Homo sapiens: one gene and its partner. The protein of the gene in region 2 interacts with the protein of the main gene of each other region in a pairwise test. Each region holds a gene or a part of one and is shown on either strand. Other genes may lie near its edges.

Region 1 (3,751 bases), about 25 Mb from region 2:
GGCTGCCCCCAAGCCCGGCCTCCCTGCGCACCCTTACCCCAGGTCCAGGTGACCACCTGTCTTCAAAGCCTCCATCCTGGGCAAAGGCAGAAAGAATGGGTATCTTAGTTTTTTTTTTTTTTTTTTTAAAGATAGAGTTTTGCTTTTGTTGCTCAGGCTGGAGTGCAGTGGCACAATCTTGGCTCACTGCAACCTCTGCCTCCCAGGTTCAAGTGATTCTCCTGCCTCAGCCTCCTGAGTACCTGGGATTATAGGCATGCGCCACCTTGTCCGGCTAATTTTGTATTTTTAGTAGAGACGGGGACTCAAACTCCCGACCTCAACTCATCCGCCCGCCTCGGCCTCCCAAAGTGCTGGGATTACAGGCGGGAGCCACCGCGCCGGGCCATCTTAGATCTTAGAGCCCACTTTAGTCCTTGAAATACATCTGAGAAGCCAATGGCAGCGAATGACGGTGCCCGCCTGCCCCAGGCACCTTGGGTGGGCCAGGCCCTGCTTCAGGAGGTGGCGGGCCACTCCGGAGACTGATGCAGCCCCACCCCAATGGTTGTCGGACTCAGCTGTGTCTGAGGTCTGTGAACTCCCAGCCTCTCAGAACCCCATGGCAACACGACAAGGACAAGGCAGGGCATGAGGAGGAGGAGAAAGTGATGCCTGTGGCCAGGAAGGCTTCAGACCTCTCATCTGTCAATGGGCCAGAGTGATGCCTCAGGCACCGCTAGAAACCCAGGGCCGGACAGGAGGCGAGGAGGGTGAGTGGGGACATGGCAGGGCTGAGCTGATGCTCAGCTGACTCCATGAGAAGGGAAGTGACCTTCACATGGGGGATACTGGACAGCACCCTCTACCTGCCTTCAGCAACCACTGAGAACACCCGGGGCACACACGGGGCAGGGGTGGCACCCAGGGTCACCTGTCTCCCTAAGGAGGCCCACTCCTCCCCCAGAAAGCCAGGGGGGAAAAGCTGCTCATCACCCAGGGTGGCAGAAACGTCTCCCCCAGCAGTTGGGCTGCCCAGCAGGGCCACCAGGCCTCTGTCCCAGCTGCCTTAAGAGGCTCTTTCAATGGGCCAGCTTCAGAACCATCCAGTGTACCGCAGCGGCCTGGCCTGGGAAAGGATTTCTCAGCCTGACTTTCCAGAGACCGAGGATGAGAAAGTTAGGCGGCAACAGAACAAAACCCCCGCCGCGAGATGGGTCTGCTGCTGCCTCATCTGAGTAGGTGTAAGAGGGGAGGAGAGGTGCCCTCAACACTCACTGCAGTGGCGCACGGGTTTTGGATGGGGGGACAGCATCTTGGCCCTCACAGCTGTGGCAGTGCCTCTGCGGGCCATGGTCCCAGCCCCCCACCCTGAGCAATGCTTCCCAGGCCCGCAGGTGCAGCCCCCTCTGCCCTTGGCCCAACCGTGGGCCCCTCCAGGGAGATGCTCTCGGCTGCCTTGCTACCCAGGGGTCGGCTCCGAGGAGAGGCCCAGGTGTGAGCAGCAGGGACCTGGTCTATGGCCTATGCCATGGACAAGGCAGAAGGACTGCCGTTGGTGGCCTGGGGGATGCGAGGGGAGGGGCAGTTCACATCGCAGCTCTCTCCGAACTCCACCATTTGGGACGTCTTTATTATGGATCCGTCCACTCTTCCAGGAGCAGTAGCCCTTCTAGGAAAGGGGTGGGAAGAAAACCAGCCTACCCTTCAAGCTGACTTAGGATGCAATGGTACAGACACCAGCCTTGGGGGAGGGTTCTCCATCCACACTCCTACCCCAAACGGGCTTTGTGCTGCTCAATGGGGATTCGGGGCCATCAGAAGCGATGCCGCGGCTGGGGGCCAAAGTGCATGGGCAGGTTGTGCTCCAGGGGCATGTGGATGGGACCGAAGTCATAGTTGACCCGCACGTTGGGCAGAGGGGGCACGTACGGGGCTGGGATAGGCCCCATGTTGAGTGGGAAGTTGTTGAACACAGGCCGCACGGGAGGCAGGGGGAAGGGTGGGTGCGCGAAGGCATAGGGTGGCATCTGTGGCTGTGGCAGGTTCTGCGGAACGGGCCTCGGGAGGGCCTCCACCCTCTGCACCTTCTCCACAGGCTTCTCCAGCGGGGGTCCAATGCGTTTGAAGGTGTTCTCTGAAAGGGATGTGGGGATTAGTGGAGAAAAACATTAAACCAACCTCAATGGAATCTAGCCTGGGACCAGGGCAGCGACCTCTGGACACGGGAGTGGCTCCACATGCTGATCAAAGCACAAAACGTGGACACCTCCCAAATGCCACTGCAAGAAACCAAGAACAAATCTGTACTTCCACCAGTGTCTTGCTCCACAGTGGCACCTTGGAAGGTGGCACGTCCACCCACCCAGCCAGACATCCTTCAGAGCCAGGGCCTTGATGGGCCACCTCAGTGACTCAGTTACTTTTTTTTTTTTTTTTAATAGATGGGGTTTTGCCATGTTGCCCGGGCTGGTCTCAAACTCCTGGGCTCAACTGATCCACCTGCCTCACCCTCCCGAGTGCTGGGATTGCAGATGTGAGCCACTGCACTTAGCCTCTTTTTTTTAAAGAAAAACAGATGGGGTCTTGCTATTTTGCCCAGGCTAGCCCCAACCTCCTGGGATCCAGTGATGCTCCCACCTCTGCCTCCTGAGGAGCTGGGATCGCAGATGTGTGCCAACACACCTGGCTTCACTGCTTTTCAGCCTCAGAAGGATCAGCTGGGTCTACTTTTCTTTAGCCAGGTGTGGCTTGATTGATTCCTGAGCTCAAACCCACCCCTTGGGACTTCCTCACCATCAAGGAGATGCCAAAACTATATTCAAGGCGTTGAAGGCCTTTCCATAAGCCTGAGATGTGGCCGCGTGGGTGAAGTCAGGTCTATAGCCACCTGAGGGACAGCACCCCCTCCTCTCCTGTGCTGGGTTGAGTGCCAGGACACTCAGGGAGGCCAGCAGAAGCCTGCATGGCCTGGCTGCTGCTCTGTCCTGGGGGCCTGGGGAGGGGCACTTGCCTCCATTCTTTCTTTTCTGTTCCTCTTCAGCCTCCTTCTGGATTTCCTCAATAAGCTTCTCATCATCTTCCTAAAACGCAAGCAATGAGAAGGATGAACCTGTAGCTTCATGCAGTGCTGAGGCCCCGTGGGACAGTGAGGAGGCCGCTTGTTGCTTATGGCCATGGAACAAGCCCGAAGCCTGCTGCTGGCCAGTGGGGCCTGGGCTGCACACCGTTCCTTCCTATTTCCCCGAAGGCCTCCTTCCTTCATCAGCCTGATGGCGTTCCACAAGGAGGCCATCCACAAGGCTGGGCAGAGGGGTCTGAGCATGGCAGGCAGCTGCCTGGTGAGGTGGGGGGATGGAGGGCCTCCATGCACTGAGCTGCGTGCAAGTGGTGGATATGAGAAGGGTTTGGAGAGGGCTGGGTCTGAGTGGGCACAGCCTGAAAAGTTTCAGATCCCAAGTCCACAAGCGCTCGGCATGGCAGCCTGTCTGCAGAGCCTGGAAAAGTCTTGCAGATGTCCTCAACTGAGATGGACAAATGTCCAGTCGGGCCCTGCTTAGCCCCCAAGGCTGGCCTTGGCTCCTGGGCCAGGCCTCGGGGAGAGGAGGAAGGTGCGACAGTGAGGATGGTCCCCCTCGGACCTTGCCGTCTCTTCTCCCAAACCCCATGCTTGGTAGGCCTGAAATAACAAACACAATTCACACTTGGGTTATCCAAGCCTCAGACACGAACCGAAGAGGCACTGTGAGTGCAGGCAGATGTGGGAGCTGTG
Region 2 (3,751 bases):
AAATCCCACAGGAAAATCCTGTGTCCCAGAAAAAGTCCAATTCTTGCCTCTACTCATGGAGTCTGGTCAAGAGCCTGGAAAAGAGAAAGAATCCACCTGTCAGAAGCTGCCTGGGTGGATCAGGGAAAGTCTGATGAGAAAAGATTATGCACACATGTGGGTTTCATAATAAACATGGAATATTGACAGTTTATCTTTTTTTTCTTTTTTCCTTTTTTTTTTTCTCATTCATGTTATGAACATTCAAACCATTCTCTTTTTTAGAGAGTATGATGGCCTCAAAAGGTAAGAGAGTGCCTCCTCCTGCCCATTGTGCTGCATCCATCTTGCCACCCTTTTTTCCTTAGGGTCAAGAAGACTGACTGACAGACCAGGACCCCACCAGGGGTTTCCCCATACCGCCAGCATCATAATCATGAAGATATATGGTGCCACATTTCCCAAATGCTTTAGAGTCCTACCACCCCTGGCTCTTGGACTAACAGTATTCCCATCACCTGGGAGTGTGTTAGAGATGCAGAATTGGGTCCCACTTGAGACCTGTTGAATCATCATCTGCGTTTGAGGTAGATTGCTGAGCACATTATCCACACCTACACATAGTGAAGGAGAAGAGAGACTGCCTAAGGGGAGTCCCTGGAAGGTACATACAAGGATCTCTGAAGCCACAGGGCACTTGCTCGATGCACAAAAGCCATGGTTGATTGGCCGTGCTCTCCAGGGTACAGACACCACCTCCCCTTCCTTTATGAAGACCTTCTAGCCCACTGTGCTGAGTGCCCCCTCCAGAGACAGTAGCTGCTAAATGCCACCTCAATATGGCCTCACATAGTTTACACTATTATCCAAAAGACCTGTAGTCGGCCCTACAGATAACAGATACTCTCTTGGGTCTGAGGAACTGAATTCTCCAGAGTTGGCAGCTCTGCCTTTCTGGTGCAACCTGTTTGGATAGATGGGCCCCAGCAGTGCTTATGTGATCACCGATAGCTCACAGGAAGCTTTGTGGACAGTGAGACACTGGAAATGCTAACTCTCTTGTCCAGAGTGAGCATAAACTATTTTCCCAGTCAGCTGAAAAAAAATTCACTGAAATAGGAATAAATGATTATAACTGTCAGGAATAATTTAAATATACCAGTCACTTTCGTTTTTTGGCCCACCTTTTTGGTATGAGAATGTGTGGTTGCAGTAAAAGCCAGGGCTCCAGAATTCTTCCCAGTCTGTGTGTACGCCTGTCTCTTCTTGACTGTTGAAAATTGGGATCCAGAAGTTAAATTTAGACTTGCCCACCATAGGTGGGATTAAGCATAGAGGTGAGGATGCTAGATTACTACATATCTGTAAGATATGTCCCTTAGAATTCCAGGCAGTCTATTTCTGGTGCTTTCTATCCATGCTTCCAAATTGTCCCTCCTCACAAATTTAGACATTAGCATTTCATATTGCATTTTTAAAAAAGATTTATTCCCCAGCGGAAAACATTGAAACCTCCAGCTAATAGGAACAGCATTAACAGCTGAATGGGAGTCTCCTGGGTGGCCTGGTGGGTAGGGGTGTGAAGTCTGCTGTCAGATCACCCAGGTTTGAATTGAATCCTGGCTCTGCCACTTACTGGGTGACTCTAGGCAAGTTACTCAACCTCTTCAGGTCTTATCTGTAAAAGGGGGACAATAAAAGTGTCCAACACAAGGTCATTATGAGGAGCAAAGGAGTTAATGTGTGTAATTCTGCTTAAGACAGTGCATTTGCTGTGCCAAACCCCCTTTTTATTTTATTTTATTTTATTTTTTTAGACGGAGTCTTGCTGTGTCACCCAGGCTGGAGTGCAATGGCACGATCTTGGCTCACTGCAACCTCTGTCTTCCTGGTTCAAGCGATTCTCTCACCTCTGCCTCCCAAGTAGCTGGGACTATAGGCACACGCCACCATGCCCAGCTAATTTTCATATTTTTAGTAGAGATGGTGTTTCACCATGTTGGCTAGGCTGGTCTCAAACTCCTGTCCTCAAGTGATCCGCCTGCCTCGGCCTCCCAAAGTGCTGGGATTACAGATGTGAGCCACCGTGCCTGGCCTAAACCCCCTTTAACCTCAGTAGGGAAGGCACCAGGTTCAAGAGGCCAAAGAAGAGACCCAGAGCCAGCAAACGAGACACGGGGTTTTACCGTACTGACATACAGGGGAGAGAGTCCAGCAGCAGGGGCTGGGCAGGAGAATCGCCTTACATGCAGTCCAGTGGCGGCAGGCTGGACAGAAGAACCACGTGGTCCCGTGGTGGTGGGCTGGGCAGGAAAACCAACCTCCTGCAATCAGTGTGCAGTGTATATAGGATTTTCACTCAACACCCTCCCGCTAATGACCTCCACCTGGCAACATTCATTTAACCCAGAACTCAGGGCCGATTTTAATCCCCTATAACGACCCATGTTCCCTGGGATAGGCCATAGGCTCACGTGTTTCTTATAGATAAGGAGTGACTCTCTTGGCCACTCCCAGTTTCCCTAGTTCCTTAGAGATAATATAGCTAGATTACATCACATCACATCACGTGTAGTTACATAAGGCTCCATAGTTTGCAGATCATGGCTGCCTTCAATCTCTCATGTCATCTCCATAGTTACTCTGTGAGATAGAGCAGGTATCATGGCGCTTTACAGAGAAGGACATTGAGGGTCAGCAAGGTGGTGACTTGGCAGAGGTCTCCAGCTAACTAGAGCTCTGGCCTCTGGACTCTAGTGCCAGTGTCTTTTTCCACACACCCTCTCAATAAATCTGTAGACCCTACACTAAGGTGCCTCCAAATTCCAGAAGGCCACAGAGAACTGCCTCTCCTCTCCCCTTTCCAGAAGGGCAGTGAGTGAGCAGCTCTTGAAAGAGCAGTCAGAAAACTTCCAGCCTGGGGACCTGTCAGTAGATGTGCTGGTTTCATCTGAGGTAAGGTAGGGAGCTGGAAAAAGGAACTGCAGAAGAGAGGTGGTCATGGCTATGTGCTTGGTTTCCTGGGTCTTTTTCAATAAGGTACCCTAAGCTGAAGAGAGGGAGGGTGTTGAGTGCTACCTATGGTTTGGGTCAGTATGAATCACCTAGGGGTGTTATGGAACAGAATCGCCCATGGTACATCTCTTTTGGATAAAGATGGCAAATATGCAGATGCACACCTCAGCTGCGCCCTTTTCATGCAGGACAGCCATTGCTAGTTGACCACAGTGTTTTCCACGGGGCCTCAGAATCCTGAAACTCCAGGCAGCCACTCCCTGTCAGGTCTGTTAAGTGAGAGGGAACCAACTGGTCATTTCTCTTTAGTGACATCCCTTCAATACAATGAACAATTATATATATTGTTTAGGTAATTTTGGAGTTCCTGGTGGTGGCGATAGTATTTATATTTTACCAGCTATTTAAATGTTACCACTTATTTGACACTTTTACCTTGCTATGTCATCGAGCAGCTCTCCAAATAAAAAATTGACCACCAAGTGTAGTCATCGACGTGCCTTACGACTAGTCATCTTTTCTCTCTTTAGAGGCAAACTTGGTTTTTTATTCCATTTACTAAAATCTGCAAGGGAGACAGGAGCCGGAAAAAGAGACTTTCTTCTCCCAAGCACACTCAAGATTGGAGCACCCTCTCCGGGGAGCTGAGAGCGCTCTTCCTGCCCTTCCCCTCTACATCCGCAGAGTCTCTGAGGCAGCTGTGGCATGCTCAGCTCTAAGGGGCGAGCGTGTGTCTGCAGTTGACTGTGTACGCCTT

Evidence for each region.
Region 1: the proteins of MTURN (region 2) and RNF216 interact in binary tests that used the Homo sapiens proteins (3 or more experiments, as listed by UniProt).

What each region holds. Positions count from the first base shown.
Region 1 is NC_000007.14:5,621,064-5,624,814, forward strand, and holds part of RNF216 (E3 ubiquitin-protein ligase RNF216), read right to left. Parts: intron 3,063-3,751; coding exon 2,993-3,062; intron 2,117-2,992; coding exon 1,797-2,116; 3' UTR 1-1,796.
Region 2 is NC_000007.14:30,151,943-30,155,693, forward strand, and holds part of MTURN (maturin), read left to right. Parts: intron 1-3,751. UniProt on the Homo sapiens protein: Promotes megakaryocyte differentiation by enhancing ERK and JNK signaling as well as up-regulating RUNX1 and FLI1 expression. Represses NF-kappa-B transcriptional activity by inhibiting phosphorylation of RELA at 'Ser-536'.